Regions from separate parts of the Homo sapiens genome. Here all the other regions are reported to be linked to region 2. Evidence: microRNA targets listed by miRTarBase, many of them from high-throughput screens and not tested one by one. Region 2 holds a microRNA gene; each other region holds the end of a gene's coding sequence.

Region 1 (6,315 bases), not on the chromosome of region 2:
GGTTTCACCATGTTGGCCAGGCTGGTCGCAAACTCCTGACCTCATGATCCGCCCGCCTCAGCCTCCCAAAGTGCTGGGCTTACAGGCGTGAGCCACTGCGCCTGGCCCCCTATAAGGACTCTTTTGTGGGATCAGTGCAGCTTCCAAAGGGTGCCCAGAACCAAGTCTCTGCGCGCAAATTGTCCCCCCTGTTATTCTCTAGCATGTGCCCAGGTGAGGTTTCTGGGGCAGAACAGTGACGTTGGTAGAATTTGGGCCCCGAGTCCCTGTGTTCCTCATTCTGAAATCCTTTGGTGATTTGAAAAATAGAAAATATTAATGTTTGTGCTGGTGTTGAAGCTGTGTGGGCTGTGGAGTCACAGAAAGGCCCCTGGAGCCAGATCCTGGAGACCCAGTCTGGTCCCAGCTCCAGAACCAGCTGTGTGACCTGGGGCAGAGCCCACTCCTCCCTGGACCTTGGTATCCCACCTGTGAAATGAAGGGACTGGACTAGATTCAGGCACTCATCAGCAGATACCCATGGCCTGTGCTGGGATGGGGACTTGGCCTTAAACAGGGTTCCTGTCTCGTAGAACTTACGTTCTTTTTTTTTTTTTTTTTTTTTTTTGAGATGGAGTCTCGCTCTGTCACCCGGGCTGGAGTGTAGTGGCACGATCTCGGCTCACTGCAAGCTCTGCCTCCCGGGTTCACGCCATTCTCCTGCCTCCTGCCTCAGCCTCCCACATAGCTGGGAGTACAGGCGCCCGCCACCACGCCCGGCTAGTTTTTTGTATTTTTAGTAGAGATGGGGTTTCACCGTGTTAGCCAGGATGGTCTCTATCTCCTGACCCTGTGATCCGCCCGCCTCAGCCTCCCAAAGTGCTGGGATTATAGGCGTGAACCACCGCGCCCGCCCAGAATTTATGTTCTAAAGGGGTTATTGAAGCCGGGCGCACTGGCTCACACCTGTAATCCCAGCATGGGAAGCCAAGGTGGGCGGATCACTTGAGGTCAGGAGATCGAGACCAGCCTGACCAACATGGCAAAACCCTGTCTACTAAAAATACAAAAATTAGCTGGGTGTGGTGGCACACGCCTGTAATCCCAGCTACCTGGGAGGCAGGAGAATCGCTTGAACCCGGGAAGCAGAGGTTGCAGTGAGCCAAGATCGTGCCACTGCACTCCAGCCTGGGCGACAGAGCAAGACTGTCTCAAAATAAATAAATGATAAAAACAAATTTTAAAAAATAATAAAGGAGCTATTAAGACTCTTCTAGCCCCAACTTTCCCTGAACCCTCAGGGGACTTCCCCAGGTGTCCTTAGTTCTCCTGACGGTGAATGTCTGTCCTCACCGGCGCCTCCACGTGGATTAAAGCCTCCATGTGTGTCTGTGTCTCATCTTCCCTTATGGAGACCTGGCCCGGGTGTTGGGAGGGCAGCAGTGAGCAGCCTCCTTCCTCCCACTTAGGAAGGGCATCCACTCATGCAGTTGGTTTATTCGGCAGATGCCAAGTGAGTCCCTCCCCTGTGCAGGCAGCGCCCAGGCCCAGGGCGGGTCAGCATGTGTCTTTGTCTCCCCAGGACTGCAGGATCCTCCTGTCTGTCGAGCCCACGGACCAAGGCTGCTACCCCCTGAACAACCATCTCTTCTGCAAGCCATGCCATGTGAAGCGGAGTGCTGCGGGGTGCTGCTGAGAGTGCCCGCTGGGCAGTGAACAGACCACTAGCCCCGGCTGGGGCCCTTCCCTGACTTGGTTTCCCTTCCTAACCTGCTCTTGCACACTTTCCTTCTGAGCCTCCATGGAGACCAGCCTGCAAGCCGGCCCAGCCTGTCCAGGATACAGTGGGGCTGAGCACCCCCAGGCCTTCCACTCCTCTACCCTCTGGGCACCAGAAGGCTCCTGGACCATGAGCTTCACCCCCAGAATTCCCTGCTGACCCTGCCCCACTTCCAGGGAAAAGCTGGGGGAGGTTGGACCCCTCTCACTGACTAGCTGTCTGGTAGGGGTGCTAGGACCAGCCTCGCCTGTGGGGTTGAGCTGTTTGAGGACAAACTCCAAGGTCCCTTAAAAAGTGCCTTTTAGAGGCTGGGCATGGTGGCTCACGCTTGTAATCCCAGCACTTTGGGAGGCCAAGGTGGGTGGATCACCTGAGGTCAGGAGTTCAAGACCAGCCTGGCCAACATGGTGAAACCCTGTCTCTACTAAAAATACAAAAATTAGCCAGGCATGGTAGCAGGTGCCTGTAATCCCAGCTACTGGGGAAAGCTGAGGCAGGAGAATTGCTTCAATCTGGAAGGCAGAGGTTGCAGTGAGATTGCACCATTGCATTCCAGCCTGGGCAACAAGAGGGAAACTCCGTCTCAAAAAAAAAAAAGTGCCTTTTAGGCCGGATGTGGTGGCTCATGCCTGTAATCCCAGCACTTTGGGAGGCCAAGGCAGGCAGATCACTTGAGGTCAGGAGTTTGAGACCAGCCTGGCCAACACGGCAAAACCCCGTTTCTACTAAAAATACAAAAATTAGCTGGGTGTGGTGGCGTGCGCCTGTAATCCCAGCTACTCAGGAGGCTGAGGCAGGAGCATTGCTTGAACCCGGGAGGCAGAGGTTGCAGTGAGCTGAGATGGCACCACTGCACTCCAGCCTGGGAGACACAGCGAGACTCTGTCTCCAAAAAAAAAAGTGCTTTTTGAAAATGTTGAGGTTGAAATGATGGGAACCAACATTCTTTGGATTTAGTGGGGAGCATAATAGCAAACACCCCCTTGGTTCGCACATGTACAGGAATGGGACCCAGTTGGGGCACAGCCATGGACTTCCCCGCCCTGGAATGTGTGGTGCAAAGTGGGGCCAGGGCCCAGACCCAAGAGGAGAGGGTGGTCCGCAGACACCCCGGGATGTCAGCATCCCCCGACCTGCCTTCTGGCGGCACCTCCCGGGTGCTGTGTTGAGTCAGCAGGCATGGGGTGAGAGCCTGGTATATGCTGGGAACAGGGTGCAGGGGCCAAGCGTTCCTCCTTCAGCCTTGACTTGGGCCATGCACCCCCTCTCCCCCAAACACAAACAAGCACTTCTCCAGTATGGTGCCAGGACAGGTGTCCCTTCAGTCCTCTGGTTATGACCTCAAGTCCTACTTGGGCCCTGCAGCCCAGCCTGTGTTGTAACCTCTGCGTCCTCAAGACCACACCTGGAAGATTCTTCTTCCCTTTGAAGGAGAATCATCATTGTTGCTTTATCACTTCTAAGACATTTTGTACGGCACGGACAAGTTAAACAGAATGTGCTTCCCTCCCTGGGGTCTCACACGCTCCCACGAGAATGCCACAGGGGCCGTGCACTGGGCAGGCTTCTCTGTAGAACCCCAGGGGCTTCGGCCCAGACCACAGCGTCTTGCCCTGAGCCTAGAGCAGGGAGTCCCGAACTTCTGCATTCACAGACCACCTCCACAATTGTTATAACCAAAGGCCTCCTGTTCTGTTATTTCACTTAAATCAACATGCTATTTTGTTTTCACTCACTTCTGACTTTAGCCTCGTGCTGAGCCGTGTATCCATGCAGTCATGTTCACGTGCTAGTTACGTTTTTCTTCTTACACATGAAAATAAATGCATAAGTGTTAGAAGCTCTTCCATGTTGTGTGTAGGCTCTCACACAGGTAAACGCTGGCGTTTGGTAGTAGCCCTGGGCATCTGCTCGCTGTGGCGGGAGTGTCCGAAGAGTGCTGGGGCTCAGCTCAGCAGATGGAGGGGCTCATTTCCTGCCTCATGCCCAGCACTGGGGCCGGCCAACTCACTGGGTGTGCTTCTCCTGGACACAGGCCACCACTGATGGGGTTGGCTGCAGGAGCCTCAGTAGGGCTGCCAAATGCTTTAAGAATTAACACTCATGCCGGGCGTGGTGGCCCATGCCTGTGATCCCAGCACTTTGGGAAGCTGAGGTGGGCGGGTCACTTGAGGCCAGGAGTTTCAGACCAGCCTGGCCAACATGGTGAAACACCGCCTCTACTAAAAATACAAAAATTAGCTGGGCATGGTGGTGCTTGCCTCTAGGCCCAGCTACTCGTGAGGCTGAGGTAGGAGAATCTCGAACCTGGGAGGCAGAGGTTGCAGTGAGCTGAGATCACAACACCGCACTCCAGCCTGGGTGATAGACTGATTCAAAAAAATAAGAATCAACAGTCAGGCTGGGTGCAGTGCCAGCACTTTGGGAGGCCGAGGTGGGTGGATGGCTTGAGCTCAGGAGTTTGAGACCAGCCGTGTCAACATGGCGAAACCCCGTCTCTATGAAAAATGAGCTGGGCACGGTGGTGTGCACCTATAGTCCCAGCTACCTGGGAGGCTGAGGTAAGAGGATCACCTGAGCCCAGGAGGTCGAGGCTGCAGTGAGCCGTGATTGTGTCACTGCGCTCCAGCCTGGGTGACAGAATGATACCCTGTCTCAAAAATAAAAAAAAAACACCCCCAGGGCGTGCTCCCTGCACATAACTAGGCTGCTCTCCCTTTTCAAGCTTGCACACTGACCCCTGGGCTCACTTGGTGAGCACAGGCCCAGAAAGAGTTGGCCTGAAAGAGCACTGGCTTGGTGACAGGCCACCCAGATCTCAGACCTATCTCTGTACTCAATAGCGTGGACAAGTTAGTAACCCTCAGCCTTGATGTTCTCATCTGGAGCAGTTTAAAACATTTTATTTATTGGCTGAGCGCGATGGCTCACACCTGTAATCCCAGCACTTTGGGAGGCCGAGGCAGGCAGATCACAAGGTCAGGAGTTCAAGACCAGCCTGGTCAACATGGTGAAACCCCATCTCTACTAAAAATACAAAAATTAGCCAGGCGATGTGGCAGGCGCCTGTTATCCCAGCTACTTGGGAGGCTGAGATAGGAGAATCGGTTGAACCTGGGCGGCAGAGCCTGCAGTGAGCTGAGATTGCGCCACTGCACTCCAGCCTAGGTGATAGAGTAAGACTCCATCTCAAAAAAAAAAAAAAAAAAAAAAAAAAAATATATATATATATATATATATATAAAATGTATTATAAAAATAGAGGCCGGGCGTGGTGGCTCATGCCTGTAATTTTAACACTTTGGGAGGCCAAGGCAGGCAGATCACGAGGTCAAGAGATCAAGACCATCCTGGCCAACATGGTGAAACCCCGACTCTATTAAAAATACAAAAAAATTAGCTGGGTGTGTTGGTGCGCACCTGTAATCCCAGGTACTCAGGAGGCTGAGGCAAGAGAATTGCTTAAACCTGAGAGGCGGAGGTTGCAGTGAGCCGAGATTGCGCCATAGCATTCCAGCCTGGTGACAGAGCGAGACTCCGTCTCAAAAAAAAAAAAAAAAGAGGCCAGGCACGGTGGCACATGCCTGTAATCCCAGCACTTTGGGAGGCCAAGGCGGGTAGATAGCCTGAGGTCAGGAGTTCGTGACCAGCCTGACTAACATGATGAAACCCCATCTCTACTAAATACAAAAAAGTTAGCCGGGCCTGGTGGCACATGCCTGTAATATGAGCTACTTGATAGGCTGGGACAGGAGAATCCCTTGTACTTGGGAGGTGGAGGTTGCAGTGAGCTGAGATCGCGCCATTGCACTCTAGCCTGGGCAACAAGAGCAAAACTCCATCTCAAAATAAATAAATAAATAAATAGAGATGGAGTCCCACTATGTTGCTCAGGCTGGTCTCAAACTCCTGGGCTCAAGCAATCCTCCCACCTTGGCCTCCCAAATAGCTGGGATTACAGGCGTGAGTCACCATGCCCAGCCAAGTTGGAACAGTTCTAATCTATCATGGAGAGTTGCTGTGAGAGAAAGGGAAGTATTAGGCTGAGAGATTTCAGCTTAGTTCATGAGTCACTGGCTTCATCTTGTGAACCCTGAAATTCTCTAGCCGTCACTCCCTCCATGGTCACGTTGATGCCTGTCAATCAGACCACCAGGAACACGCCTGCAGTCAACAAATTTGGGTTTATTATGCTTGCTGTGGCAAGGGAGGCCACACAGCACGGGGAAGCCAGGGCATCTCCAAAAGCAGTGTTAGTGCTGGTATCGGATTTGGAGAAAGATTTAAGGAAGTGTGGGTTTGCTCTGGATGTGTGCTGTCAGAAAGCGGGGTGATTGTATGGTTCAGTGACTCGATCCCTTTATATCTACAGCTGTGATTGGGGGCGACGCAGCAGCAGCTGCAGGAGACATTCTCATTTGTGTGGGTGGCCCTGAGATGCGTGTTCAGGACAGCTGCTGAGTGGTGTTGCTTTTGACTTTAACCTTCTTAGGCCAGACGTGGTGGCTCATGCCTATATACCCAGCACTTTGGAAGGCCAAGGAGGGCGGATCATC
Region 2 (6,315 bases):
AGCTACCAATGACTTTCTTCACAGAATTGGAAAAAACTGCTTTAAAGTTCATATGGAACCAAAAAAGAGACCGCATTGCCAAGTCAATCCTAAGCCAAAAGAACAAAGCTGGAGGCATCACGCTACCTGACTTCAAACTATACTACAAGGCTACAGTAACCAAAACAGCATGGTACTGGTACCAAAACAGAGATATAGACCAATGGAACAGAACACAGCCCTCAGAAGTAATGCCGCATATCTACAACCATCCGATCTTTGACAAACCTGACAAAAACAAGAAATGGGGAAAGGAATCCCTGTTTAATAAATGGTGCTGGAAAAGCTGGCCAGCCATATGTAGAAAGCTGAAACTGGATCCCTTCCTTACACCTTATACAAAAATTAATTCAAGATGGATTAAACACTTAAACGTTAGACCTAAAACCATAAAAACCCTAGAAGAAAACCTAGGCAATACCATTCAGGACATAGGCATGGGCAAGGACTTCATGTCTAAAACACCAAAAGTGATGGCAACAAAAGCCAAAATTGACAAAAGGGATCTAATTAAACTAAAGAGCTTCTGCACAGCAAAGGAAACTACCATCAGGGTGAACAGGCAACCTACAGAATGGGAGAAAATTTTTGCAATCTACTCATCTGACAAAGGGCTAATATCCAGAATCTACAATGAACTCAAACAAATTTACAAGAAAAAAACAAACAACCCCATCAAAAAGTGGGTGAAGGATATGAACAGACACTTCTCAAGGATATGAACAGACACTTCTCAAAAGAAGACCTTTATGCAGCCAAAAGACACATGAAAAAATGCTCATCATCACTGGCCATCAGAGAAATGCAAATCAAAACCACAATGAGATACCATCTTACACCAGTTAGAATGGCGATCATTAAAAAGTCAAGAAACAACAGGTGCTGGAGAGAATGTGGAGAAACAGGAACACTTTTACACTGTTAGTGGGACTGTAAACTAGTTCAACCATTGTGGAAGTCAGTGTGGCGATTCCTCAGGGATCTAGAACTAGAAATACCATTTGACCCAGCCATCCCATTATTGGGTATATACCCAAAGGATTATAAAACATGCTACTATAAAGACACATGCACACGTATGTTTACCGTGGCACTATTCACAATAGCAAAGACTTGGAAGCAACCCAAATGTCCAACAATGATAGATTGGATTAAGAAAATGTGGCACATATACACCACAGAATACTATGCAGCCATAAAAAATGATGAGTTCATGTCCTTTGTAGAGACATGGATGAAGCTGGAAGCCATCATTCTCAGCAAACTATTGCAAGGACAAAAAGCACCGCATGTTCTCACTCATAGGTGGGAATTGAACAATGAGAACACTTGGACACAGGAAGGGGAACATCACACACCGGGGCCTGTTGTGGGGTGCGGGGAGAGGGGAGGGATAGCATTAGGAGATATACCTAATGTTAAATGACGAGTTAATGGGTGCAGCACACCAACATGGCACATGTATACATATGTAACAAACCTGCACATTGTGCACATGTACCCTAAAACTTAAAGTATAATAATAAAAAAAAAATTATAAAGTACTGCATGGTGATATGTGCCTATAGTCCTAGCTATTCAGGCGGCTGAAGCAGGAGGATCCCTTGAACCCAGGATAGGAGTTTGAGGCTGCAGTGAGCTATGATTACACCACTGCATTCCAGCCTGGGTGACAGAACAAGTCCCTGTCTCTAAAAATCATAATAATAATAATAATTTTTAAAATTGTAGTATAGTATGTAGCCTTTTGTGTAATGAAAGTGGAAGGAGGAGCTATGAACATATGACATATACATATGAATGTATATGCTTATCTGCAAAAAGAAACACTGGAAGGATAAATTCAGAAGCTAGTAAAAATGATTACCTGCAAAGCAGTAAGAGAAGAGACAGAAGGGATATGGATGAAAGGGAAGCATCTTTGAATATAATTTGTTACACAGTTTTGACCTTGGAATCATGTAAATGTTTTACATACTCAAAATTAAATCAAAGAGAAAAAAAATCTAGTGATCCTCATACAGCTAAATGCTTCATGTGATAATGGAACACTGATATGTTGCCTATGCCCCATTTTATTAAAATGAACCAGACTATAACCTTGACCTAGCCAAATCATTTTTCTTCAGTAATAAAGTTTCCCTGCTATATTTACTTATGTTTTGCTCCAACATATCTAAAAGCTACCATCTGTAGGTAATAAGAACAGAACACTATCACATATTGTTTTAATTTCCTGCCTGTTATCAGCAGCAAGAAGGTAACCCTGGAAACAGGGATTTATGGCATTCTGTTTCCTACGGTTGGTCACAACCACAAACAAAATGAAAGCAGCCTCCACAAGTTAAAGGTTTGTCTACAACAACACCACACAATGTCAGTTTTCAGGTATACCTTTCTCATGTCATTCATAATTAAGCAATGTCAACAAATAACACTGCTGGGTAACATCCCTCAAGTATTTAGTCTGCCAGACCCTTTTCTGAAAGTATAGTAAGACAGGCCCACAATACAAGCCCAAGTGCTTTTTTTTTTCTCTCGAGACAGGGTCTCCCTCTGTTGCCCAGGCTGGAATGCAGCGGCACAATCTCAGCTCACTGCAACCTCCACCTCCTAGGCTCAGGTGATCCTCCCACCTCAGCCTCCTGAGTAGCTGGGATTACAGGCGCAAGCCACCATGCCTGGCTAATTTTTGTATTTTTTTGTAGAGATGGGGTTTCGTCATGTTGCCCAGGCTGGTCTCAAATTCCTGAGCTCAAGGGATCTGCCTGTCTTGGCCTCCCAAAGTGCTGTGATTACAGGCATGAGCCACCATGCCTGGCCCCCAAGTGCTTATTTAAGCATACTTCGAAACAGGGGTTCCCAGACTCCCGCTGTGGGCCTGTTAAGACACAAATCTCTAGGCCCCACCCCTAGGGCTTCTGTTTCAGGTGATCTGAGCAGACCTGAGAATTTGCATTTCTAACAAGTTCCCAGAAGATCCTGAAGCTCCCGGTCTGAGAACCAGAGTGCCCCTGGTTTGAACTATTTCATGTTTTGTGCTGCTACACAGAAACTTCATCTCTTCAAAATGCTCCTACTCAAATATATAGGTAAATATTTAAGGACAAACAGACCTGTTTCTGCTGTGGAGAAAGTGAGGGAAAAAGGTAAGAAGAAACTCCAGGGAAAGATTTCCTCAAAAGGAAATTTCTGTCCAATGGAGTTCCCTCTGAACCCATAGTATAGGAATTAGTGCCGTCTGGAGTATCTGGTGATCAGCACCAACAACTCCAGCTCTCTGAGGAAGCCGGACACCTGACGCATCTCCCTGGAAGGACAGAGTTAAAAGACAGTGGAAGATGACTTGGAACATCTGAGTGAGCATCCATCCTAAAGGATAGGAAAGAGCTAATGGAGTCTGCCTACTGGTTTTAAAATTAAGAGAAGAGACAGAGAGAAGTGCCTAGGGCATCACACCTCTGCTTTTGGCTGGAATTAAATCAACTCAAGGTGCTAACAAAGATAAGCCTATCCTGATTTGGTGGAGAATGGTCCAGACCCTCATAGTTCCATCTAATATCAGAGCTACCTCCACCAGCATACAGCGCTTATCTCATCATGCCTCGTAGTACCATGGTTATTTGTGCCCACGTCCCACAGACACACTGGGCTATAAGTTTCTGAGTTAAGCATTATATCTGAAGGCTTTGGAGCTTCTACACACTTCCCTGTAACACCATGCACAAAGCTGGAGTTAAACATAGATCTTCTGTGTTTATTCAATTAATATGTCTGTCTTTACTCTATGATTCACTTTTTTTTCTTTTTGAGACAAGGTCTCGTCCTGTCACCCAGGCTGGAGTGCAGCAGTGCAATCACCACTCATTGTAGCCTCCATCTCCCAGACTCAAGCAATCCTCCCACCTTGGCCTCCCCAGTAGCTGGGACTAGAGGTATGCCACCATATCCAGTTAATTTTTTATTTTTTTGTAGAGACAGAGTCTCATTATGTTGCCCAGGCTGATCTTGAACTCCTGGGCTCAAGCTCCTCCTACCTCAGCCTCCCAAAGTGCTCGAATTACAGGTGTGAGCCACCACGCTGGACCAATTCACTTCCTTAAAATACATTTTTAAATGAAGGGACTCCAAAGAAATTCATGCAGCCAAGGGAACATAAGAATTTTCAGCTGGGCACAGTGGTTCACGCCTGTAATCCCAGCACTTTGGGAGGCCAAGGCAGGTGGATCAATTGAGGTCAGGAGTTCAAAACCAGCCTGGCCAACATAGTGAAAACCCATCTCTTCTAAAAATACAAAAATTAGCCGGATGTGGTGCCATGCACCCGTAGTCCCAGCTACTTGGGAGGCTGAGGCACGAGAATCACTTGAACCTGGGAGGCGAAGGTTGCAGTGACTTCAGATCACACCACTGCACTCCAGCCTGGGCAACAGAGCAAGTCCCTGTCTCAAAAAAAAAAAAAAAAAAAAAAAAAAAATCACTGCCATCTTGTTGGTAATAGCAAAAATAGAGAAGAGTGAATCAGAAGAACAATTACACAGTTTGGGTAAACTCACAATAAAATATGACCCAGCAATGAAAGTCAGTAAATTTGGGCTGCATTTATAAATCCTTGAAAGGATATTCAGTGTAAAAAGCGTGTAGCAGAAGGATATGTAGAGTATGAGCCATTTAAATTAAGTAAAAACAATGTTACATGTTGTTTGTAAACATATACAGAAAATGAAAGTATAAAAATAGACATGAGGCCGGTCGCAGTGGCTCACGCCTGTAATCCCAGCACGTTCGGAGGCCGATGAGGGCAGGAGTACAAGACCAGCCTGGCTAACATGGTGAAACCCCATCTCTACTAAAAATACAAAAATTAGCTGGGTGTGGTGGCACATGCCTGTAATCCCAGGTACTCAGGAGGCTGAGGCAGGAGAATCGTTTGATTCTGGGAGGCGGAGGTTGCCGTGAGCCAACATTGCACCACAGCACTCCAGCCTGGGTGACAGAGTAAGGCTCTGTCTCAAAAAAAAAAAAAAAAAAAAAAAAAGACATGAAAGCAATCCCAGCTACTCAGGAGTCTGAGACAGAAGAACTGCTTGAACCCGGAGGCGGAGGTTGCAGTGAGCCAAGATCATGCCACTGCACTCCAGTCTGGGCAACAGAGCAAGACTCCATCTCAAAAAAAAAAAGAAAGTTAGGGACCAAATTCAGTATAGTGGTTACCTCTGTAGTGAGATGATAACTGGATCAGGAAGTGATAACTAGGAAGTTTAAACTATCTGTATTTTTTAAAAGCAATTATAGCAAAATACTAAGATTTGTCAAAACCCAATGTATTTTGATTAAACTTGTTCATACAGTCTTGTATATGTGAGAAATTTCATTAATAATATATTATAAAATATATATTTTATATATAATATAATATATATTATATAATACATAATATATAAAATATATATATACTCCATATATATATATACTCCATATAAATATATACTCCATATATATATATACACTCCATATATATATATACTCCATATATATATATACTCCATATATATATATATACTCCATATATATATATACTCCATATATATATACTCCATATATATATACTCCATATATATATACTCCATATATATATATACTCCATATATATATACTCCATATATATATACTCCATATATATATACTCCATATATATATATACTCCATATATATATACTCATATATATATACTCCATATATATATACTCATATATATATATATACTCCATATATATATACTCCATATATATATATATACTCCATATATATATATACTCCATATATATATATATACTCCATATATATATATATATACTCCATATATATATATACTCCATATATATATACTCCATAATATATGGAGTGTAATGCTGCAATCTCGGCTTACCGCAACCTCCACCTCCCAGCTTCAAGCGATTCTCCTGCCTCAGCCTCCCGAGTAGCTGGGATTACAGGTATGTGCCACCATGCCTGGCTAATTTTTGTATTTTTAGTAGAGACAGGGTTTCTCCATGTTGGTCAGGCTGGTCTTGAACTCCCAGCCTCAGGTGATCCGCCCTCCTCAGCCTCTCAAAGTGCTGGGATTACAGGTGTGAACCACCGCGCCAGGCCAATAAAAATATTTTTTTAAATTAAGGTCTTCATACACATGCTGGCATTTGTTTTTTCTATAAAAATAAAAAAATTTTAAAAAGAAACAAACATTAAAAAAACAGGTTACCTTTGCATGGAGGG
Region 3 (4,793 bases), not on the chromosome of region 2:
TTGGAAAACTTTCAGCTGTAGCTCCCGCTTCATAGTGCATCAGAGAATCCACAATGGGGAGAAACCCTATGAATGCCAGGAATGTGGGAAGACATTCAGTCAAAAGATCACTCTGGTTCAGCATCAGCGAGTTCACACTGGGGAGAAACCTTATGAGTGTAAGGAGTGCGGGAAAGCCTTCAGATGGAATGCAAGTTTCATCCAGCATCAGAAGTGGCATACTAGGAAGAAACTCATCAATGGAACAGGGCTATCCGCAGTTAAGCCCTACTGTCCCTGCGCCATCCTCTCTCCTCTGCCTCCCCAACATACCTGCTCTGCCCTAGCCCCACCAGGGCCTCCCTTATCTTCTTCACATGCAGTGGTACTTCCTCCCTCTGTGCCTTTCTTCCTGCTGCTTCCCTCATCTGAAAAGGCCAACCCTTCACCTGTCCAAATAGCACATTTTTTTCAGGATCTCGCTTTTCCTGGGAAGTCATCCCTTCAGAGCCCGAATCCTTTGTCTCACTCCCTGTAAGCCCCGTCACGTTCTCAAAATCCTTTGCACCTCAAGTTAGGGATTCCACTGGTCTCCTGATTGTGTCTATTGATATTCCTCTGGTCTTGTCTTGTATAAGTTGTTACTGTTTTCCTAACTTCATTTTAAATTCTCACGCTTAAGGACCATGTTTGATTAGTTTCTTTTATCCCCCGGTAGGAAATGGCAGTACTTATTCTTTATCGTGTCCACATTTGGGCTGTATTATCAGTCTGCATCTCTCTTCTGGGGCTACTGGAGTTGGAAGAGTTTGCAGAACATTTTGGGGTTTAGGGCATATGGCATTATGATTATGATGAGATGGGGCATTATAATTAGAGACTAGGAGAAATGCAAAGCCTATGGGAGAACATAATCAGATAAAGTGTCCAATGATTGCTTTCAAGAGCTTTTTTTTTTTTAGGGGGTGGGGGGTGGTGCCGGAGTTTCACTCTTGTCACCCAGGCTGTTTGCAGTGGTGTGATCTTGGCTCACTGCAACCTCTGCCTCCAGGGTTCAAGTGATTCTCATGCCTCAGCCTCCCGAGTAGCTGGGACCACAGGCATGCACCACCACGCCCCGCTAATTTTGTATTTTTAGTAGAGACAGGGTTTCACCATGTTGGCCAGGCTGGTCTCAAAATCCTGACCTCAGGTGATTCACCTGCCTCAGTCTCCCAAGTGCTGGGATTACAGGCATGAGCCACTGCATCTGGCCTGCTTTCAGGAGTTAAGGAGGGCCATTTGGTGGACCAGGGGCAAGGCTCACTGAAAGAATGTAAGACTTGGAATTTTTTATTACCTTGATAGTATAAAAAATTATGAGGGTCCTTTTATGCAAAAAGAAAATGAAGTGATGAGTTGGCATTGATAGCAATAATGTAAAATTATGTCTTTGAGCTTTATTGGAAGGGGATATGGTTTTTCAATTTGGGTTCCTTCTCTATTTTCATTTTCCTTTTTTTTTTGAGACAGGTTCTTGTTCTGTCATCCAGGCTGGATTGCAGTAGTGCGATCATGGATCACTGCAGTGTGTTGACCTTCCAGGCTCAAGCAATCCTCCCACCTCAGCTTCCCAAGAAGCTGGGAGGTAGTGCAGCCTCCCAGTTTCTCAGAGGGCTGAGGTGGGAGGATTGCTTGAGCCCTGGGGGCATACACCACCACACCCAGCTAATTTTTGTATTTTTTGTAGAGACAGAGTTTTGCCATGTTGCCCAGGCTGGTCTCAAAACTCCTGGACTCAAATGATCCTCCCACTTCAGCCTCCCAAAGTGCTGGGATTACAGGCTTGAGCCACCATGTCCAGCCTCTATTCCTTTTCATATCTGTTGAATTTCAGTACCCACTCATATATGTAGGTACAAAAAGTGACTTGGACTTGTACCCTTTAGGGTAGATGCCTGAGTATAGTAATCTCTAAAGCTGTACATGGATGGAACTTGTTGGCATCACACTGGTGAGCACCAGAGGCAAAGAAGAGAAACCTGACCATGACTTGCTGTAGTTTCTCAGAAGTGAGTCCATTCCTGATGAGTTACTATGCAGGCCCTTGGATATGTCCTCACACCTACTCCAGATTTCCCTATGATTAAATCTGAATTTTATTGGTGGCACTTTTAAATTAGTTTTATAAAGAACTGTTTTGATGACACCAAGAAATGTTTTCAGTGTGCAGATTGCTATTGTTTGAATATCCCCAGCAAAATTCTTGTTGAAACTTAATCCCCATTGTAACAGTACTGGGTGGGGGGTCTTTAAGAGGTGATCAGGATTAGCCAAGTTCATCAGGGTGGAGCCTCCATGATGGGACTGGTGGCTTTATGAGGAGAGGAAGAGCAACTGGAACTGGGACACATGCTTGCTCTGTCTTGCCTTTTGATGCCTCCTGCCATGTCATGATGCAGCAAGTAAGCCCTTACCAGATGCCTGCACCTTTATATTGGACTTCTTAGCCTTCAGAACTGTGAACTAAATAAACCTCTATTCTGTATAAATTACCCAGTCTATGGTATTCAGTTAGAGCCACACAAAATGTAACAAGACAGAATATTGATAGCCATAAGTAGGTTTGCTGCTCTGACATTTACATAAAAATGTAGAAGTGGCTTTGGAACTGAGTAATGGGTAGAGGCTTGAAAAATCTGGAAGATCAGGTCAGACAAAGCCTGTATTATCTAATGGAGCATTAAGGGTGATTTTGGCCAAGGCTTAGAAGAGAAGACTAGGGAAAGTCTGAACCTTCTTAGAGATTACAGGAGGTCCTTGAACAACTTGGGTTTCAACTGTGTGGGTCCACTTATGGACTTTCTTCTGCCTCTGTCACCCCTGAGATGGCAAGACCAGTCTCCCTCCTCTCCCCTTCTCAGCCTGCTTAACAAAATGACAAGGATACAGACCTTTATGATGATCCATATAATATAGTGAATTATATTTACTAAATATAATTTCTCTTATGATTTTCTTAATATTTTCTCTAGCTTTATTATAAGAATATAGTGTCTAATATGTATAACATAAAAAATATGTGTTAATCGACTGTTTCAGTAAGGCTCTGGTCAACAGTAGACTATTAGTAGTTACATTTTTGGGGAGTTAAAAGTTATACATGGCATGGGGGTTGGTGCCCATATGATGGGACTGATGGCTTTATAAGAAGAGGAAGGGAGACCTGAGCTGACATGCATGCTCTTGCCATCTTGCCATGTGATGCTTTCCATCATGTTATGACACAGCAAGAAGGCCAGATACGGCCCCTCCACAGTTCCCAGCCCTCGGAACCATGAGCTAAATAAACTTCTTTTCTTTATAAATTACCCAATCTGTGATATTCTGTTATAGTAACAGAAAACAGACTGACACTGATCTTACCAGACATTATGATCTCACTGGTTTGGCCTACTGCCTAGAGACTGACCCTTCTCAGAATCACTGCTTCAGGGCAGTATAACAACATGCAAAGGTTTATTTATTTATTTATTATTTTTTGAGACGAAGTTTCACTCTTGTTGCCCAGGCTGGAGTGCAATGGCGCGATCTTGGCTCACCACAACCTTTGCCTCCCAGGTTCAAGTAATTCTCCTGCCTCAGCCTCCCGAGTAGCTGGGACTACAGGCATGCGCCACCATGCCTGGCTAATTTTGTATTTTTAGTAGAGATGGGGTTTCTCCATGTTGGTCAGGCTGGTCTCAAACTCCTGACGTCAGGTAAGCTGCCCGCCTCAGCCTCCCAAAGTGCTGGGATTACAGGCATGAGCCACCGCGCCCGGCCACAAAGGTTTTTTAAAAAAACCTTTGTTTTTTAAAAAACTACATTTTTAAAAAAACCTTTGTGGCCGGGCGCGGTGGCTCATGCCTGTAATCCCAGCACTTAATGTAAAAAAACAAACTGTGAAAAATATTTCAGAGACGTTTAACCTGAGCCAATGTGAAGTGACCGTGGCCTGGAGAAAACACAAACCCAGGAAACCTTGAGTAAGTAGTCCTGAGGCAGTCAGAATGTAACTCTGTTTTATGCATTTCAGGGAAGCAGAAGCTACACAAAAAGCCATCAATCAATACATGGAGGTTATACATTGGTTTGGTCCCAAAAGGCAAGATATCTTGAAGCAGAGGAATACAGGTCATAGGTGGGTTCAGAGAGTCTTTTTTTTCTTTTTTTGAGACAGAGTCTTGCTTTGTTGCCCAGGCTGGAATGCAGTGGTGCAATTGAGTTGAGACGGCGTTTCACCATGTTGGCCGGGCCTGTCTTGAACTCCCGAACTCAAGTGATCCACCCGCCCCAGCCTCCCAAAGTGCTGGGATTACAGGCGTGTGCTAAGATTACATGCGTGAGCCACCGTGCGGGGCCAGAGATTATTTAATTTGTAATTGTTTAGAAGAACAAAGTGTGGTCTAAGAACTTGGAGTTACCAGAAAGGAATGTTTAAGTTAAGGAAGTTTGTAGCCAGGTGTGGTGGCTCACACCTGTAATCCCAATACTTTGGGAGGCCAAGGTAGGAGTATCACTTGAAATCAGGAGTTCAAGACCAGCCTGGGCAACATAGGAAAACTGTGTTTCTACTAAAAATAATTTTTTAAAATTTAATTTAATTTAAAAAAGGATAATGTTACGCATCATATGATGCTATGCTAGAGTTGAGTTGTGAGACCAAGCCACTATATATATATTTTATAAAATATATATAATATAGGCTGGGCGCAGTGGCTCATGCCTGTAATCCCAGCACTTTGGGAGGCCGAGGTGGGTGGATCACCTGAGTTTAGTAGTTCGAGACCAGC
Region 4 (6,216 bases), not on the chromosome of region 2:
AGAGGGTGGAAAACATCAGCCCAGGGGTGGGACTACTGTGTTTATATAATACAAACACCTGAAGGTGGCAGAAACTAGCAGAGACAGAGGATTTCTTAGCATCAGAATTGATATGTTGTTATTTATGATATCTTAATAATTTAGAGGCATATAATAATGACAAGGATTCTGATATTTGTTATAAAGTATAATTGTGTTGATTATATTTAAAACCATTAATAGAAACAATATAATTATAGAATTAAGTAAAACTGTAAGTGGTATGCTATGGCATGGTGTACGGTATGGTACGGTATGAGGAATGTGGAGTAGAGTGTGGTGGGGAGGTGTAGGATATACCATAAATAGTCACACTGGGTTGGGCGAGGTGGCTCAGGCCTGTAATCCCAATGCTTTGGGTGGCCGAGGTGGGCAAATCGTGAGGTCAGGAGATTGAGACCATCCTGGCCAACATGGTGAAACCCCATCTCTACTAAAAATACAAAAAATTAGCTGGGTGTGGTGGTGGGTGCCTGTAATCGCAGCTACTCGGAGGCTGAGGCAGGAGAATCACTTGAACCCGGGAGGCAGAGGTTGCAGTGAGCCAAGATCACACCACTGCACTCCAGCCTGGCAACAGAGTGAGACTCCATCTCAAAAAAAATAAAAATAAAAAATAGTCACATTGGCACTAGTAGCCCATTTGAGAGCTGAGGGTGGAGGGTGTGATTCATCCTGGCATTATGGGAAGTGTCCATGACAACCTTGGCTTTAAGCTGACTTTGGCCACGGGGTCAATGTCTGCCACACTGCATCACATCCATTATCCAACAAGGTGCCTGAGCCCCAGAACCCTCAGCCCTGCCACATTCCTCTTGCTCCTGGGGTTCTATATTTTCCAGTGGCTGCTCCAGTGGAGGAGGTGGGGCAGGTGACACTGACAATGGGGTGCAGGATAGAAAGTGCTAGGCTAGATGCTGATGGGAGTGGCCCCCTGCCTATGGATCCCCCACTCCTGCCCCTTTCCCCCTCTATGTGACCTGCCACTGTGACCAGGAGGAGGCTAAGTTAGATCTTGTAAACAGTGTGGAATGTATGTAGGTAGGATACTCAGTTTGGTACTGCCCTGACATGGAGTTAGAGCTGGGTGTGCTGGACCATGGTGGGAGGAGGCATTAAATCTTGAATTAGAGGACCCAAACCCACCCCACCAACTTCCCCACACATGTTACCAATCTGTGCGGGGCATCTGGTCAACCTCGATATTATTGCTATTATTCATTCATCCATTTAACAAGCTTGTACTGAGCATCTGCTTTGAGCTGGCACCGTGCTGGGCGCCTGGTATACAGCAGAAACAGGACAGACAAAGTCTGGTTCTCATGAGGCTGATGGTCCAGTGGGGAAGAGGGATGAGAAACCAAAAAAAGGAATATTGAATCAGGTCAGATAGTAATAGTATTTGCAATGCAAATATCATACAAAATAAGGGAGCAGCAAGTGAGCTCTACAGATGTGTTACTTCAATGGCAGGATAAGATGGGGATGGAGGCACTGCAAAGGTGGAAGAGGAAAGCAAGATGCACGGGCACTGGAGAAGCAGAGCACTCTCAGAACAGTCGGTGCAAAGGCCCAAAGCCAGAGAAAAGATCCTTGATGTTAAAACAGCCAGAATTGAGATGCCTGACAAATAAAAATGTTGACTAACTCCAACTGCAGACTCTCTGGCCTCTTTTATTGTAGTTATATCTTTACACTACAAACATTAAATGCAACTACGTGAAAGTAGAAATAACCAAAATATTATGTGAAAGTTTGATATGTAAAATATTAAAATTAGGTAATCATATAAAATAAAACATATACTATAAAACAGGTACTATTATATAAAATACAAACTATTTTATTGTCACAAGGAATATACAGTAATAAATATTACAATATGCTATATAACATACTGTAGACACAATTTTCTATAGTATGTAATGACAGGCACATATAAAATTAAAATATATAAATCTAGTTTTTACACTTATAAATCTTTTATCAAATGTAATTCAAGTTATCACATGGTTTACCTAAAATACAACAGCACTTTTGAGATTCATCCATGTTGTAGTAAGTGTCAATAAATCATTTCTTTATGTCTGAGCAGCCCTCCATAGTATTGGTGTACACAATTTGTTTAATCACTCATCCACTGATGTACATTTGTGTTACTTCCTAATTTGGGCAATTATACAATTGCTGTGAACATCTGAGTATAGGTTTTCATGTAAACAGAATTTTTCTTTCATCTAGGGTAAATACCTAAGTGTGGAGTTGCTGAGTCATATGATAAATGTATGGTTAATAGTATAAGAAGCTGCCAAACTTTTGTGCATAGTGGACAGACCGTTTTACAATCCTACAAGCAATGCATGAAAATTTCCATTGGTCTGTATTCTTGCCAATTTATGGCACGTTTTCATTTTTAGCCATTCTAAAAGCCATTCTATAGTAGTATCTCATTGTGGTTTGATTTACATTTTCCTGATAATTAAAGATGTTGAGCATCTTTTCATCACCTTATTTTCCATTTGTTTTTCATAGAACCATATGGATGAATCTCAGATACATCACATTAAATGAAAGCACTCCGACTCAAAAGGAGATATACATACACGTACAAAACACACACACACACACACACACACACAAGGACTCCACTTATACAATATTATGGAAAAGGCAGAACTATAGAGACGGAAACAGACTGGTGATTGCCAAGGGCTGGGAGTGGGAAAAGGGACTAAAAAGGGATAGGAAAGAAGTTAGGGAAGTGAGGGGCCTGTTCTTCATCTTGATTGTGGTGTTGATTGCATGATTAGATACAACTGTCAAAACTCAGAACTCTACACTAAAAAGTGTGACTATTACTGAATGTAAATTATACCTCAATAAATATAACTTTAAAAATATTTCAGTTATGTCCACACAAAAAGCCTGCACAGATATTTATAACAGCTTTCCTCATAATTGCCAAAAGGAAGCATCCAACAGTCCTTCAGTAGGTGAATAAATAAACATCCAGACGATGGAACATAATTTGGCTCTAAAAAGAAATGCATTATCAAGCCATGAAAAGACATGGAGGAAACTGAAATCCACATTACTAAGTGAAAGAAGTCAATTTGAAAAGGCTACACACTGTATAATTTCAACTATATGATATAAAAGATCAAAGGTAAAACTATGGAGACAGAAAAAATGTTGCCAGGATTAGAGGAGATGAAGGGATGACAGGCAGAACACAGAGGATTTTTAGGGCAGTGAAACTACTCTGTGTATAACAGTGGAAACATGCCATGATCCACTTGCTCCAACAAGCAGAAAGTACAAGACACATTCTATGGTGTTACACCAAGGATGAACCCTAATATAACCTATAGACTTGGGGTGGTAATGAGTGTCAGTGGAGGTTCACCAATTGTAACAAATATACTACTCTGAGAGGAATGCTGATAATGTGGGAGGCTATGCATATGTGGATTAGGGGATATATGGGAAACCTCTGTAATTTCTACCCAATTTTGCTTTGAACCTAAAACTACTCTAAAAAATAAAGCCTTCCGTATATACGGGTATATGCATATACATATACGTAAGTATTATAATATTGTTACAATAAATATATAAGAGAAATAATCAAAAGTCATTTACAATAAATTGTTTCCCTTCATGAGGCTTGGGCATACAGAGGATAGTCAGATGCTTATGTTGACTGATGACTAATATTAACAGGATGCTGTCATTGGGCCCTGCTGGCTTGGATCCCATCCATCATGTGACCCAAAAAAAGTCACTTCATTCTCCCATAATCCCATTTTACAAGTGAGAAAATTGAGGCCCAGAGGAGGTTTCTGGGCAGGCTGAGGGTCCCTAAGTGGATCAGTGTTGGCACCAGAATTTGAACCAACATAGACAGCTTTCACTGTTCTGCTCACACCATACTCATGTAGTAGACAGGAAGCCCAGCTTGTGGTCTCCTGAGATCTCCAGATCATCCCTGGCCCACCCTGGGTCCATCATTCCATTGTGCCTTGGGGGGAACTCAGAGGAAAAGGTCTATGAGGCTGGGACCTCATCCTCATCACCATCTTCCAGGGATCATGACCATGCAAACATGGAGATGCAATCTTGGGGGAAGTACAGTAGCCAAGGGTGACTAAGGAACCGCATGAAGCAATGTGGGAAATTGGGAATCAGCAGACATTGGGTTAACGGGACAATGGGGAGCCAAGAGATACCATCAAAATTTAATGGAGGGGTCAGACACTGTGTTAGTGATTAATGGGCATCAACAGACATTGGGCTAGTTTTTGTTTTTTTTTTTTTTAACTGGGGTCCTAGAAAGAAGGGGACAGAAGAGGCTCCAAAATACAGTTGGGAAATGTGGACATTATGGTTCATTGTAAGTCACCGCCATTGCCTGAGGGGAAGGAAGAAAGTTAACAGCATCCACCGTATTGAGGGCATTCCCACATGCTGTGTTAGGGACAGTTAGATACTGCTAGGTGAGTAACGGGAGATAATTGTTCATCATCGTGAGGGAAAAATCAATAAGGAGGATCACAAGACATCCTGCTAGAGGTGTAATAAAAGTATCAGGAGATAGAAACCATTGTATTGCAGGGGGCACACCACTGTCCCCTATTCTGAGGGTTGTAATAAGTGGTCATCACACAGAATGGAGAGTGGACCTTACTAGACATTGTCACAAGTGGGAAGAGGTAACAGACACCATGCTGGAGTGAGGTGATTGTAAAAGAGGTAATGAGGAGATCTCCAGAAACTGTTTCCGGAATTGATGAAGTGTGACACACATAAGAGTAAGGTAAAACAGGAAAAATGGCCAGGCGTCATGGCCCTTTCCAGCCCTAAACATATGGTTGTGTTGGTTTTCATATAAGTTATTAATCTGTTACATGAAAGTTACATCCTTAAGGAAGCCAGATACTAAGCTTCAAGTCAGTGATGAGTACGAAAAAAAAAAAAAGGCAACTGAGTTGGAAGAACTATGACAGCAGAAGGGAGATTTAAGTTGTCCCAGATGACCATAAAATTCTTACCTCGGAAGCTTTCTTGAAGGTGATGGGAGTTCACAAGACACGGTGCTGGGGGTCAAAACACAAAGTGCTGAGGGCCCGTGAGGCTGAGAGACAGTCATGGTAGATAATGAGGGGGGTGCAAGTCTTGGTAGATGACAGTGGGGACTCAACATACATTCTGAGGTTTACGTCTGTATACATAAAGGTTTTTTCTTTTTTTTTTTGTAGCATCTCTTTCTTGATAGAAATACTGAATGAGGGTTGGATATGACCAACTGTGGTAGATTCGAATGAGAAAGAAAAACACCCAGGAGTCTGTTACACAATGTGTTCCACAACGAACAACTCACATAACTTAGGATTCATCACTATCAAAATAACTACGTATTATGTTGTTTTATCATTCAATTTGTTGGCACTATACCTAATCCACAGTAAACAGGATTATCGTTAACTTAATACGATCTTTCTTAGGAAGAATTTGGTAACAGTATTCTATTGTAGTTTTCATGAGAAGGCTTTTCCTATTCACCAAATTGACTCGGTTCCTTGTCAGTATGAATAATGACCCAAGGTTTACTGGGGATGGTGACAATGTAGGAAGGGTCCCTCGCCTCATTCAGTGCCTTCTCAGAGGCCCTCTCCAGAACAGCCATGTGTGACATTCTGCTGTGGTCATTTCTATTTACAATAATATACATATTTTTCTGCTGCATGCGTGCAACAGTGTACAATCAGACCCAACCCTCAGGGGGGTTTTCTCACACTGTTTCTCTCAAGCGTGGCTGCTCTGATGGACGCTGAACACTGATTTCTGAACGAAGCCTTTCCCACAGATGCCACACTTGTAGGGTTTGTCTCCAGTGTGTGTTGTCTGATGTTTATTCAAATTGGACCTGTCAGTAAAGGCCTTCCCACACTCAGCACACACGTAAGGCTTCTCTCCAGTGTGAATTCGCTGATGCACTTGGAGCTGTGATTTTTTAGTGAAAGACTTCCCACAGTCACTGCACTCATAAGGTTTCTCTCCAGTATGAATTCTGTGATGTGTAATCAACTCTGACTTCTGTCGAAAGGTCTTCCCACATTCAGAACAAATGTAGGGCTTTTCTCCGGTATGAGTTTTCTGGTGCTTACTGAGATTTGA
Region 5 (4,000 bases), not on the chromosome of region 2:
TCAGAATATATGTTGGCCGTTAACACATGACTGTACATACATTTCTAGGAAGGGTACAAGAATATTAAAACTTAATTTTACTTCTCACAGTTTACCCTTCTATATATAATTTGTATTTCTTAAAGTATTGGTATGTGTTTTTGAAACCTTTTTTTTTTTTGAGATGGAAGTTTTGCTCTTGTTGTCCAGGCTGGAGTGCAATGGCGCGCTCTTGGCTCACTGAAACCTCTGCCTCCCGGGTTCAAGCGATTCTCCTGCCTCAGTCTCTGAGTAGCTGGGATTACAGGCGCCCGCCACCACACCCGCCTAGTTTTTGTATTTTTAGTAGAGACGGTTTTACCATGTTGGTTAGGCTCGTGTTTGAACTCCTGACCTCAGGTGATCCATCTGCCTCGGCCTCCCAAAGTGCTGGGATTATAGGCGTGAGCCACCGCACCAGGCCTCAAACTAATTTTTAGTCTTGGTTTTTTCACCCCTTTACGTATCTTGGTTTTATCTGGCTTACAGACTTTAGTCAATTCTGAATTAGGAAAGAGTTCTTGTTTGATATGACCAAACCTTTCCAACTGGAGACTGGGGAGTTGTGGAGAGGCTCTTATAAACTGAAACATAAGAAACCATCATTATTCTTACAATTCTACTGAATTGTAAACATTACTGAAGTAGTATCACTAAAGGACTGAGCTGAACCAGGTTACAGGGTGGTATCCAGGAGTTTGAGATCACAGCTTCCATTAAGAGGATCATAGCTTCCACTCCTAAACCCTGCCCAATAATCTCACAGAAGCCAGGTGCAATGGCTCACGCCTATAATCCCAGCACTTTGGGAGGCTGAGGCAGGCGGATCACTTGATGCCAGGAGTTTGAGACCAGCCTGGGCAATATAGCGAAAGCTTGTCTCTACAAAAATTACCTAGGCGTGGTGGCGTGCGCCTGTAGTCCCAGCTATTCAGGAGGCGGAGGTGGGAAGATGGCTTGAGCCCAGTGGCAGTTGCAGTGAGCCGAGATCACGTCACTGCACTCCAGCCTGGGAGACAAAGCAAGACCCTGCCAATAAAAAGACTGCTGAGTGAGTGTTCATTCTTCCAGCATCTACTAAACACCTGCCCTAACATGGGCATGTGGAAGTTCCAGCATCCCAGAGACCTTCACACATTACAGCTCTTCACAGGGCGGGTAGTTGAGCAGTTTGAGGGAAAGCAGATTCTAGCCCCCTCAGCTGGGGAGGTTTCCCAGTGTCCTAAACCTTGGCCTCCTGCTTCTCTTTAGTGGCCCTGCTCCTGCTTAACACAGTAGTGCTTGTCACATGTTAGTCGCTGCCATGGATTTCTCAGGTTTTCAACATCATAACTACACTCCAATTCTCTGCACCCCTTTGGCAGGTGAGGCCAATAGAAAAATAACAGCACAGTTGAGTTTAAAAATGTAGTTTGTAGCAGGTGGACAGGTAAAGAGCTGGGTTAAATGACACCTCCACCTATCCTAGCTGTATGAGAATAAAAAAACTCCGAATCCTTCCTGAGAGGATTGAGCTGGCTAACCCTATGAAGTACATGGTGTCTAATGCCTGCCCCCAAGGTTTAATACAATATTTAAGACTTGCCTTTTGAAGTTCCCCACTGTCAACCTCCCCAGTTCTCCACCCATCTTCCCATGTGAGCTCTGCCTTAGCCACGCAATGGCCAGTCCTCCCTACAATGAGTCCATTTCCTTTATTCTCAATTTAAATTCAAAGTGGGGAAAAAGTGCACTTAAGAATGAATCATCCATTTTATTTTATTTTGTCATGTGCTCAACAGCATCTCTCTCTCTCTCCCCTCTCCCTGGCAGGTCACAGAGATAAATTAAAAATAAAATCTACAAGGAAAATAATTTATAAAAGCACTCCCAGGTTCACACCTTCTATCCCTACTGCTCAGTTAGGCACCCCCTAACTGGGAATCAGTGCTTCCCCCCACCCCCATTTCACTCCCACTTGTCTGGGGCAGACGGTACTCCAGAGCCGGGCAGGGGTGAGGGCAGCAGTGGCAAACAGTTAAAAATAAAGACATTGTAGTCCTGGAACCATCTGGCCACCTTGGCACTCCCATGTCTGCCTCCCCCAGGCAGCCCTCCAGGAGCCTGTGCGAAGCTGGGGCTGTGGAGAAGCTGCCTGTGGCTGAGAGCTTGTGTGTTTGGGGAGGTGCTCTCAGCCTGTCATATGCACTTCTCAATCTTCTAGAAAGAAACCCAAAAAAGAAAGCAGACGACGACCTCGGGACAGAGGAGAAAAATCCCAAGTGTTCACACAGTTACACGGAGTCTTTATGGCAAAGAGAACATTTAGCAGCTTTGAATATTGGGCATCTCCTTTTTACTCAACACAAGCATTCTAGACCCTATAAGTGAAACAGGGCACAAGCCCTAAAAAAATCAAAGCGCAAGAAATTCTAAGAGGACTAGTTCTTTTGTTGTTGCTGGGTTGTGTAATTTTTTGTGTTTTCCCAGTGATAAGCCCAGTTGTTGGTAGGCAGAGGCCCGAGGGAAGGGTGACTCCCCAGTGTTGTGCTGAATCCTGCCTGGAGGCTGCTACACTAGATTCTCCATCATTCCTCTGCCTCACAGCAGTCCCAGAAGAGGAAGGCTGCAGGCCCAGTTCCCGGAGCACTGCCATCACCCTACCCCAGCTTACAGAAGAGCTCAGGCAGTCTGTGAGGGGTGGGGAACACAAACACCGGACCAGGGGAGGACGGCATACACATGCAGGCTCTGATGGAGACAATGGGAGCCTCAGCTCAGGGGTGGCTGGAGCACGGAGGGAGATGGAGTGGCAAGGCAGTGAATGACATGCGTGATGTTGGGGCTGTTGCAACATGGGACCACGTGACCCTTTCCTGTTCACTCTACCCTTTGACTCTAAATCTCAAAGCCAGTGTTGGGGCCCAGTGGCTCCATTCGATTGAAACATGGCCAATGATATCCAAGAGCTCCCCTTCAGGGATGTCAAAATGCAAGGAGCAGAAAGAGTTAACACCGTCCCTCCCCACCCCCACCCTGTGTCTGTGTACCCCACCCCCCCCGGGGTGAAAATTGGGGTTTATCACACCAGTGATCTAGGCCCACCAGTCACTCCAACCTGCTGCCTGGAATCCTGGCCAGAGCCAACCTTAACCTTCCCTCTGATTTTCTTCCCGCTTTGATTTTTTTTTCGGGGGGGGGGGGGTTCCTTCCTTCCTTCCTTCTATCCCTCCTTCCTGAAATGAGACTTTCTGCCACCTTCCCTTCCTCTCACAGGTCCATTCCTTCCCCTCTGTCGGCCTTTGCTCCACATAGCTCCTCTACCTCCAGCAACTCCACCACCACCCCTGCCTCACAGGAAAGGGGTAGGGTGAGGACCCTGTCCGTCTAAATGGTCTGGCCACTTCCACTCCACCCGAGTGGAGCTGAGCCAGCCAGTGCCTGCCTCTTCCTGTACACTGACCCGCAGTCATCCCATCTGAGAAGATATATTGGATAAGAAGGCATTTAAGTCCCCGCTGTAGGTCCAGGTCCAGGTCCAGGTCCAGCCCTTCTCCAGTTTCGGTCTTGGTGGGCTTCAAACCCCCTTCTTCCCCAGGCTCACTTTCTCCGGTCCTTTGGCTTCCTCTCCTGCCGCCGGGCCTGCTGGTCGGCCATCGTGCGGGGGATGAGGAGGACACTGCCGTCCCCGGCGTACTGGAGCGCATACTGACTGGGCGAGTAGGGTCGTCCGTTCTCATCTCGCAGCCGCCCAAACACCTCCTGGTACAGGCTCTGGACCTTCTGCTTCATCTGTCGCAGGGAGCGCAGGAACTCCACTTTCTCCCGCAGCAGCCGGGCTTTGTCACGCTGCAGGTCCTCCACATCACGCTCCAGATTCAGGATGGTGTCCAGCTTGCGCTTGCGGCAGTTCTGCGCCGCCATCTTGTTCTTGCCCCGGCGCCGGATGTCTCGGATGAGGCTCAGCTGGGCTTCACTCAACTGGTATTTGGACAGCAGTTCA

The links. Region 2 holds the annotated microRNA hsa-miR-4308 (UCCCUGGAGUUUCUUCUU, at 3,191-3,208, opposite strand). A microRNA usually pairs through its seed, bases 2 to 8, with sites in the 3' UTR of a target mRNA and lowers its output. Matches are read on the target gene's strand: a 7mer-m8 pairs with bases 2 to 8, a 7mer-A1 pairs with bases 2 to 7 and ends in A, and an 8mer does both.
Region 1: the mRNA of FBLIM1 is a reported target of hsa-miR-4308. Seed matches in the 3' UTR shown: 8mer at 1,931-1,938.
Region 3: the mRNA of ZNF619 is a reported target of hsa-miR-4308. Seed matches in the 3' UTR shown: 7mer-m8 at 1,026-1,032.
Region 4: miRTarBase lists ZNF585A as a target of hsa-miR-4308. Seed matches in the 3' UTR shown: 7mer-A1 at 4,025-4,031.
Region 5: miRTarBase lists NFE2L1 as a target of hsa-miR-4308. Seed matches in the 3' UTR shown: 7mer-A1 at 1,821-1,827.

What each region holds. Positions count from the first base shown.
Region 1 is chr1:15,782,987-15,789,301 of GRCh38, forward strand. FBLIM1 (filamin binding LIM protein 1) reads left to right here. Exons shown (of 9, transcript NM_017556.4): 9 at 1,562-3,603. The coding sequence ends at 1,675. Among named protein-coding and RNA genes, the nearest start is that of UQCRHL, 22 kb to the right of the region's middle. RefSeq lists enhancers at 3,405-4,169, 4,170-4,934.
Region 2 is chr14:54,874,933-54,881,247 of GRCh38, forward strand. It overlaps MIR4308 (microRNA 4308), which reads right to left and starts at 3,261; the gene lies at 3,181-3,261. The region is part of intron 1 of GCH1 (GTP cyclohydrolase 1); the gene reads right to left. RefSeq lists an enhancer at 6,275-6,315.
Region 3 is chr3:40,487,725-40,492,517 of GRCh38, forward strand. ZNF619 (zinc finger protein 619) reads left to right here. Exons shown (of 5, transcript NM_001145093.4): 5 at 1-3,329. The coding sequence ends at 517. Among named protein-coding and RNA genes, the nearest start is that of ZNF619, 13 kb to the left of the region's middle.
Region 4 is chr19:37,145,745-37,151,960 of GRCh38, forward strand. It overlaps ZNF585A (zinc finger protein 585A), which reads right to left. Exons shown (of 5, transcript NM_001288800.2): 5 at 1-6,216. The coding sequence ends at 5,845. Among named protein-coding and RNA genes, the nearest start is that of ZNF585A, 24 kb to the right of the region's middle.
Region 5 is chr17:48,059,239-48,063,238 of GRCh38, reverse strand. It overlaps NFE2L1 (NFE2 like bZIP transcription factor 1), which reads right to left. Exons shown (of 6, transcript NM_003204.3): 6 at 1,694-4,000. The coding sequence ends at 3,598. Among named protein-coding and RNA genes, the nearest start is that of NFE2L1, 13 kb to the right of the region's middle.